Linked DNA regions of Homo sapiens. The protein of the gene in region 1 purifies or fractionates together with the protein of each later gene. This does not show direct contact. Each region holds a gene or a part of one and is shown in the gene's direction. Other genes may lie near its edges.

Region 1 (3,745 bases):
ATAACTGGGACATTTCTGTGACTTCCACAGTTCTCCTTTCCCATCATTAGAATACTAAATTCTTGATTACAAATATGCCTAGACTTTGGAAAGACTCATTGCATCATCCTGTCATGGCGTCTCCCACTCAACCACCACATTTGAAGGCTCTCCCACGGACAGATTCACTACCAAATTCCAGCCTGTTGACACTCCTTATTTATCATAGATAGCTTCTTTCTTTAGGAAATGAGGTGTTTCTCAAGTATCTCTCCAAGTGTATTCTTTACATAACTTACCTCACTATTCAATCAAATTGAGCACTAGATTCTGAACACTGTTCCTAACTCTGTGTATACGTTCATAAACAAGACTAATATAGTCCCTACATTACTCCTTTGAGAGTGACCTGTTTCCATAACTTTGGGGCATCTCCCTGTAGCTTGCTTTTACCAGAGAGAAACATGAGTTTACTTACATGATATTTAAATCCCTAATGAGTTATTCTTTCTTCCACAGCAATGGCACCAGCATGATATCATTGATCATTCCTCCCAAAGACCAGATTTCACGAGTGGCAAAAATGTTAGCGGATGAGTTTGGAACTGCATCTAACATTAAGTCACGAGTAAACCGCCTTTCAGTCCTGGGAGCCATTACATCTGTACAACAAAGACTCAAACTTTATAACAAAGGTAATCTGGAGTTTGCTCCTTTTCCTTCTCTACACATTTTGGTTATGTTTTATACTGTGATGCTGCTATGGTGCTTTGTTCACTAATGTTCCCTTAAGTCGGCTGTCATCAGTGTCTCTTTGGCCTTGGTGGTTAGCTTTTTTGTTTTGTTTTGTTTTTTGTTTATTGAAAGTTAAGTAGGCCAGGCACAGTGGCTCATGCCTGTAATCCCAGCACTTTGGGAAGCTGAGGCAGGTGGATCACTTGAGGTCAGGAGTTCGAGACCAGCCTGGACAACATGGTGTGAAACCCTGTCTCTACAAAAAATACAAAAGTTAGCCAGGCCTGGTGGCACACACCTGTAGTCCCATCTACTCTGGAGGCTGAGGCGAGAGAATCAACTGGACCCGGGAGGTGGGAGTTGCAGTGAGCCACGATCTCGCTGCTGCACACTAGCCTGAGTGACAGAGTGAGGCGTTGTCTCAATTTTTTTTTTTTTTTTTTTTTTTGGGATGAGACAGAGTCTTGCTCTGTCACCCAGAGACTGAAGTGCAGTAATCCGATCTCAGCTCACCACAAGCCTCCCAGGTTGAAGTGATTCTTCCGTCTCAGCCTCTCGAGTAGCTGGGACTACAGGTGCCCATCACCACGCCTGGCTACTTTTTGTATTTTTCGTAGAGATGGGGTTTCACCATGTTGGCCAGGTTGGTCTTGAATTCCTGACGTCAGGTGATCCGCCTACCTCGGCCTCCCAGAGTGCTGGGATTACAGGCGTGAGCCACCACCACGTCCAGCCTGTTTACTTTAAAGAATAAATCGTACTGAAACGTCTCAGAAGAAGTTTTAAAATTAGGGAGAGAGTTCTGCCTGAGAGATTTCAAGCTTTTTCTGCTTTATTTAAATTATGACTTAAAGGATCAGGCAGGGAAAATAGGCTATGGGAACATTTTCTATTAATTGACGAAAAACTAGATATGGGGTAAAGTAGAAAAATTGTTTGTGTTCTTTGCAGTACCTCCAAATGGTCTGGTTGTATACTGTGGAACAATTGTAACAGAAGAAGGAAAGGAAAAGAAAGTCAACATTGACTTTGAACCTTTCAAACCAATTAATACGTCATTGTATTTGTGTGACAACAAATTCCATACAGAGGTAAGAAGTCAAACCCAGAACATTTTCATCGCTCCAGAATTCTTTCCCCGTACCCATTAGCAGTCAGTCCCCCATCCCTCCCACTTACCTGTCTCATTCTAGGCAACCACTATATTTTCTTTCCATAGATATGCTTGTGCTGTACTTCTTTTATTTTTATTTTTTTATTTTTATTTTTTTATTTTTTTTTTAGACGGAGTCTCGCTCTGTCTCCCAGGCTGGAGTGCAGTGGTATGATCTCGGCTCACTGCAAGCTCCGCCTCCCAGATTCAAGGGATTCTCCTGTCTCAGCCTCCTGAGTAGCTGGGATTGCAGGCACATGCCACCACACCCAGCTAATTTTTTTGTATTTTTAGTAGAGATGGTGTTTAAACACATTGGTCAGGCTGGTCTCAGACTCCTGACCTCGTGATCCACCCACCTTAGCCTCCCAAAGTACTAGGATTACAGGCATGAGCAACCCCGCCCAGCCTGGACATTTTATATAATGGAATCATATAGTTTGTGGCCTTTTGTGACTGGCTTCTTTTACTTTATACTTTTAAGGTTCCATGTGGTAGCATTCATCAGTACATTTCATCCCTTTTGATTACCAAGTAGTATTCCATTGTATACCTATATGCCATATTTCATATTTTATATAGCTTCTCGTTTCATCAGTTTTACATTTGAGTGGTTTGCACTGTTTGGCTGTTCTGAATAATGCTGCTGTGAACATTCATGGACAAGTTTCTATGTGACCATACATTTTCATGTTTCTTAGATTTGTGGAATCGTGTAGGTTATATAGTAATTATGTTTAACTTTTTAAGAAGTTGCTAGACTGTTTTCCAAACCGTTGTACCATTTTACAAAGCTGTCTGTTTTCAAAAAGTAAGGCAATTTACATTTATTATGACACTAGTCATTCAGCATGTTTTGAGACAGAGTCTCACACTGTCGCCCAGGCTAGAGTGCAGTGGTGCAATCTTGGCCCACTGCAACCTCCATCTCCATGGTTCAAGCGATTCTTGTGCCTCAAGCCTCCTGAATAACTGGGATTACAGGTGTGCACCACCATGCCTGGCTAATTTTTTGTGTTTTTTTAGTAGAGACAGAGTTTTGCCATGTTGGCCAGGCCTGTCCCAAACTCCTGGCCTCAAGTGATCTGCTCGCTTCAGCCTCCCAAAGTGTGTGTGTGTGTGTGTGTTTTGATTTTTGTGGGTACATAGTAGGTGTATATGGGGTACATGAGATGTTTTGATACAGGCATGCAATGTGAGCTATCACACTATGGAAAATAGGGTACCCATTTCCTCAAGCGTATATCCATTGTGTTACAAGCAGTCCAGTTATACTCTTTGAGTTATTGCACTCAGTTTTCACATAACAATTGTAAAATTTTTAGTAGCAGAACTGTAAGAACTCATTTTCCCCCCTTTCCCCTGAAACTTTTGAGTGACAAAGCTGCCATAGGATGAACTTGAACAGTGGAAAGGAAACCTCATTAGAGTGACCTAAATCAGTCAACAGTAGAACAATCAAGAATTCACAGCTGGCTCCTTAGTTCATTCTCTTGCCTTTCATCAACCTAGGGAAAAACCTCTACAGTGGAATTAGAACTGACATTTGTCGACAGTTTACAGTGGATGATTTTTGCTAACTTGATGGGAAGTCCATTTATAGTTGGATCTTGGTCGACTGCATAGACAATCCAGACTGTTTTTCTCTTCACTACCACACTCTACTTACAGCAGAGGGTTTTTCAGGGAGCCTCTCAGCCACTGAAACCACTTACCTGTATCTGGTTGGATGAAAGCCGATTTTGAATCTTGTTGATTTAAACAGTGCCAGGTACCCATGTTGTCTGGCTTTTGCTCACTTACTGAGTTAGCCTTGTTGGCTTTTTTCCAAACCTTAACTCCTTTTCTAAGATACTGTTTAATCTTGCTAACTTTGTA
Region 2 (3,745 bases), on another chromosome or scaffold:
GGAAGTTGGGGGGACCTGGCCTGTGGCTCCACCCAGCACAGGGAGAGAGCCTGGTGCTCCTTCCGGCTCATATGCGCGGTGGTTCTCCTCTAGGTCACCATGGCTTTGTCATTGGTTACTCCCTCTTTCTAAGGCGCCCTCTTGTTTGGTGGGCAGTATTGGGTGGGTCCCCCCACAGCTTCGTGAGGTGGGCTAGAGGAGCTGGGCATCGGGTCAGTGCCCCGGCCTGCTGGGGGCCCTGTGGGGCCGCGTGTGCCCCGGTGCCTGGAAGGCCGACTCTCTTGACAGCAGGTCTTCTCTCCAAACGTATCCACCCAGCCAGGTGTCTGCCATGGGGCTGCTTAGAGTCGGCCACAAAATCAACCCGTGTGCAGGGTCAGTGGCTTGGCATTGGGCTTTGGGGCCTGTCCCTGTGGCTGGCAGCCTGCCTGCTGCCCGGTCCACGCCTCTGTTGCCTTGGATTTGGGTTCTGAGTGAATGCAGCCTTGCCTCTTGGACCGTCCTGTGAGACGGGCAGCTCTCCACCTGCGTCCTCAGCACTGCGCCCTTGTTGCAGGTATGGCGTCATCATTGTGGGCAACCCGAAGGCACTATCAAAGCAGCCGCTCTGGAACCACCTGCTGAACTACTATAAGGAGCAGAAGGTGCTGGTGGAGGGGCCGCTCAACAACCTGCGTGAGAGCCTCATGCAGTTCAGCAAGCCACGGAAGCTGGTCAACACTATCAACCCGGTGAGCGCCTGCACAGGACAGCAGGGCAGCACGGAGAAACCCGGGCCCAAAACACTGCTGGGAACGTGCCAGCTTGGCCCGTGTGCCCGTGAGCTGAGGGAGGGCTCTCCTAGGGGAGGGTGGGCTCTCCTAGGGGAGGGTGGGCCAGCCCACTTCTTGTCTCCCGAGCCGTGTGTGGCATTTTTGGCTTGGGGCCGCTAAGTCCTGGGTGGCCTCTGGGAATTGGGCTCAGGGCTGCTGTGCTGCATGCAGCAGCCTGGGACCTTGGACACGGGCAGTTGGAAGCTTTGCAAGCCCGGGGTGATCTGGTAGTGAGGGGGTGTGAAGCTTCCTGAGCTGAGGCCCAAGGGTCAGCATCAGAGCCCAGGTCTGCCGAGGAGGGCAGGCGAGACCCAGAGGCCATGAGACAGCAGCTCCCTCCTGTCTCCAGGGAGAGCCCCTGGCACAGTGTCAACACCTCACAGCTGCATACCTGCCACCTCCCAGGCCACCGGGCCCGTGGGAAGTTGTTCCTTCTGTTGAGATGACAAATTCCTCACCTATCTAAACCTTCGCAGGGAGCCCGCTTCATGACCACAGCCATGTATGATGCCCGGGAGGCCATCATCCCAGGCTCCGTCTATGATCGGAGCAGCCAGGGTGAGTCGCTCAGCAGGGGACCTGGCCGACCCCTTGTCCTCACACCGGGATGCTGGCCGTTCCCATGGCTGCAGCTTTAGGTGCCCCCATCTTTCCTTCCCCTCAAGGGCGGTGCCTGGCTCCCTTGGCCTCCCCGCCCCTAGGGCATCTCTAGCCCCGGAACACTCCTGGGGTGTTTGTCTTTAACCAGAGTTTATTCATTTGTGTTTCCTGGTGATCAAGCTAGTTAGCTTTTTCTTGCCTTTTGGTAGGGCAGGGACTGCATGTAGTACAAATAGAACATTTTCATAAAAAGGATTTTTTTTTTCCTTTGGTAAATGCAGGGTGATTTTCATTTATTTTCTTTTTTTTGTTTAGAGACAGGGTCTCCCTATGTTGTCCAGGCTGGTCTCAAACTCCTGCCTCAAGCAGTCCTTCTGCTCAGCCTCCCAAAGTGCTGGGATTACAGGCGTGAGTCACTGCACCTGGCCAATTTGCAGGTGTTTTTTTTTTTTTTTTTTTTTTTGGAGACCGAGTCTCGCTCTGTTGCCCAAGCTGGAGTACAGTGGTGTGATCTTGGCTCACTGCAACCTCCCCCTCTGGGTTCAAGCGATTCTCCTGCCTTGGCCTCCCGAGTAGCTGGGATTACAAGCACCCACCACCATGCCCGGCTAGTTTTTGTGTTTTTAGTAGAAACGAGGTTTCGCCATGTTGGCCTGGCTGGTCTCAAACTCCTGATCTCAGGTGGTCCACCTCGGCTTCCCAGAGTGCTGGGATTATAGGCTTGAGCCAACACGCCCGGCCCCAATTTTCAGTTTTTAAGATCTGTGTAGGCCAATGATTCCCAGCAGACTCTCCTCGGGGAAGGTGCCTGCCCAAGCACCCAGCCCCAGGCAGGCTGCTGTAGTTAACATGGAGTCCTGCGAATCCGCATCTTCAGCCTGGGCAGAGCCAGGACAGATGTGCAGCTCCGGCTGACTGGCTGGTGGGGTGGGTGGGGTATCGCTGGGGTTTGACCGAGGCAGGTGACACCTGCCGTGTTCCACTGTGATTTGCAGGCCGGCCTTCCAGCATGTACTTCCAGACCCATGACCAGATTGGCATGATCAGTGCCGGCCCTAGCCACGTGGCTGCCATGAACATTCCCATCCCCTTCAACCTGGTCATGCCACCCATGCCACCGCCTGGCTATTTTGGACAAGCCAACGGGCCTGCTGCAGGTGAGCATCTGTGGCTGCGGCTGGGTGTGGCCCTCCTGAGAGCTCTTGAGGGTGTGCTTGTCTGCGAGGCCCTGGCCTCCTTCGGATCACCCTGGACTGCTGTCTTTCAGGGCGAGGCACCCCGAAAGGCAAGACTGGTCGTGGGGGACGCCAGAAGAACCGCTTTGGGCTTCCTGGACCCAGCCAGACTAACCTCCCCAACAGCCAAGCCAGCCAGGATGTGGCGTCACAGCCCTTCTCTCAGGGCGCCCTGACGCAGGGCTACATCTCCATGAGCCAGCCTTCCCAGATGAGCCAGCCCGGCCTCTCCCAGCCGGAGCTGTCCCAGGTGAGCCCGCCCCTGGGACGGGACTTACCTGAGTGAGGGTGGGGCTATGCACCTGAAACATTCCCTCTGAAGAGCCCCAGAGAGCTGGCCTGGCCCATGTCCACTGTCTGAATTACCTGTCCCTGGGCTGGGGTCATCAGAGTGGGTCTCCTGGGTCTTAGTTTGGGGACGGGTTTTCCATTCTTTTCTCTGGGGCTGCTGAGGGCTGGGTGGATGTGAGCACCCTTGGCCTGTGGCTTGCTTACCTCCTGACCTTGTCTTTCAGGACAGTTACCTTGGTGACGAGTTTAAATCACAAATCGACGTGGCGCTCTCACAGGACTCCACGTACCAGGGAGAGCGGGCTTACCAGCATGGCGGGGTGACGGGGCTGTCCCAGTATTAAAAGGCAAGCCCCCCTGGAGCAGGCCTGGCCCCACCCCAGCCTCAAGGAGAAGGATGGGAGGGGGCTCTCCCCAGGGAGCTGCACTGGAGGGGTGGTATCTGGAAATGTGTGCTGTGCCTGGTGGGGGTCATAGGCCCTCAGGGCCAGCTTGGCCTGTGCCCTTCACTGCTAGTCAGGGTGGCTCCTCACCCCACCCTACCCCATCCTGTCTGCTCCGGGGACCACCGCGGGACCTCAGTTTCCTCATCAGAGTCGGGGAGGGCAGCTCGGGCTCTCCCTCACTGTCCTGTGTGCTGGGTACCTGTGGGGCTCAGGTCGCAGCCTCTCACCGCCTCCTGCCCTTCTCCCTCCTGACAGGTGGCGGCGGAAGAGCTAAGCAACGTGGCTTAGTCCATCAGCATCTTATTCTGGGTAATAAAAAATAAAAATAAACGGATACCTGTTTTCCACTGCTAAAACTGAA

The links. Proteins that work in one complex are often made in the same cells at the same time.
Region 2: the proteins of ETF1 (region 1) and UPF1 purify together in Homo sapiens (affinity purification with western blotting; 2 studies listed by BioGRID and IntAct, with this or other methods). This does not show direct contact.

Annotation. Positions count from the first base shown.
Region 1 is NC_000005.10:138,515,621-138,519,365, reverse strand, and holds part of ETF1 (eukaryotic peptide chain release factor subunit 1), read left to right. Parts: intron 1-498; coding exon 499-674; intron 675-1,665; coding exon 1,666-1,805; intron 1,806-3,745. UniProt on the Homo sapiens protein: Component of the eRF1-eRF3-GTP ternary complex, a ternary complex that mediates translation termination in response to the termination codons. The eRF1-eRF3-GTP complex binds to a stop codon in the ribosomal A-site.
Region 2 is NC_000019.10:18,862,882-18,866,626, forward strand, and holds part of UPF1 (regulator of nonsense transcripts 1), read left to right. Parts: intron 1-556; coding exon 557-731; intron 732-1,288; coding exon 1,289-1,370; intron 1,371-2,407; coding exon 2,408-2,569; intron 2,570-2,679; coding exon 2,680-2,897; intron 2,898-3,162; coding exon 3,163-3,282; 3' UTR 3,283-3,285; intron 3,286-3,639; 3' UTR 3,640-3,745. UniProt on the Homo sapiens protein: RNA-dependent helicase required for nonsense-mediated decay (NMD) of aberrant mRNAs containing premature stop codons and modulates the expression level of normal mRNAs.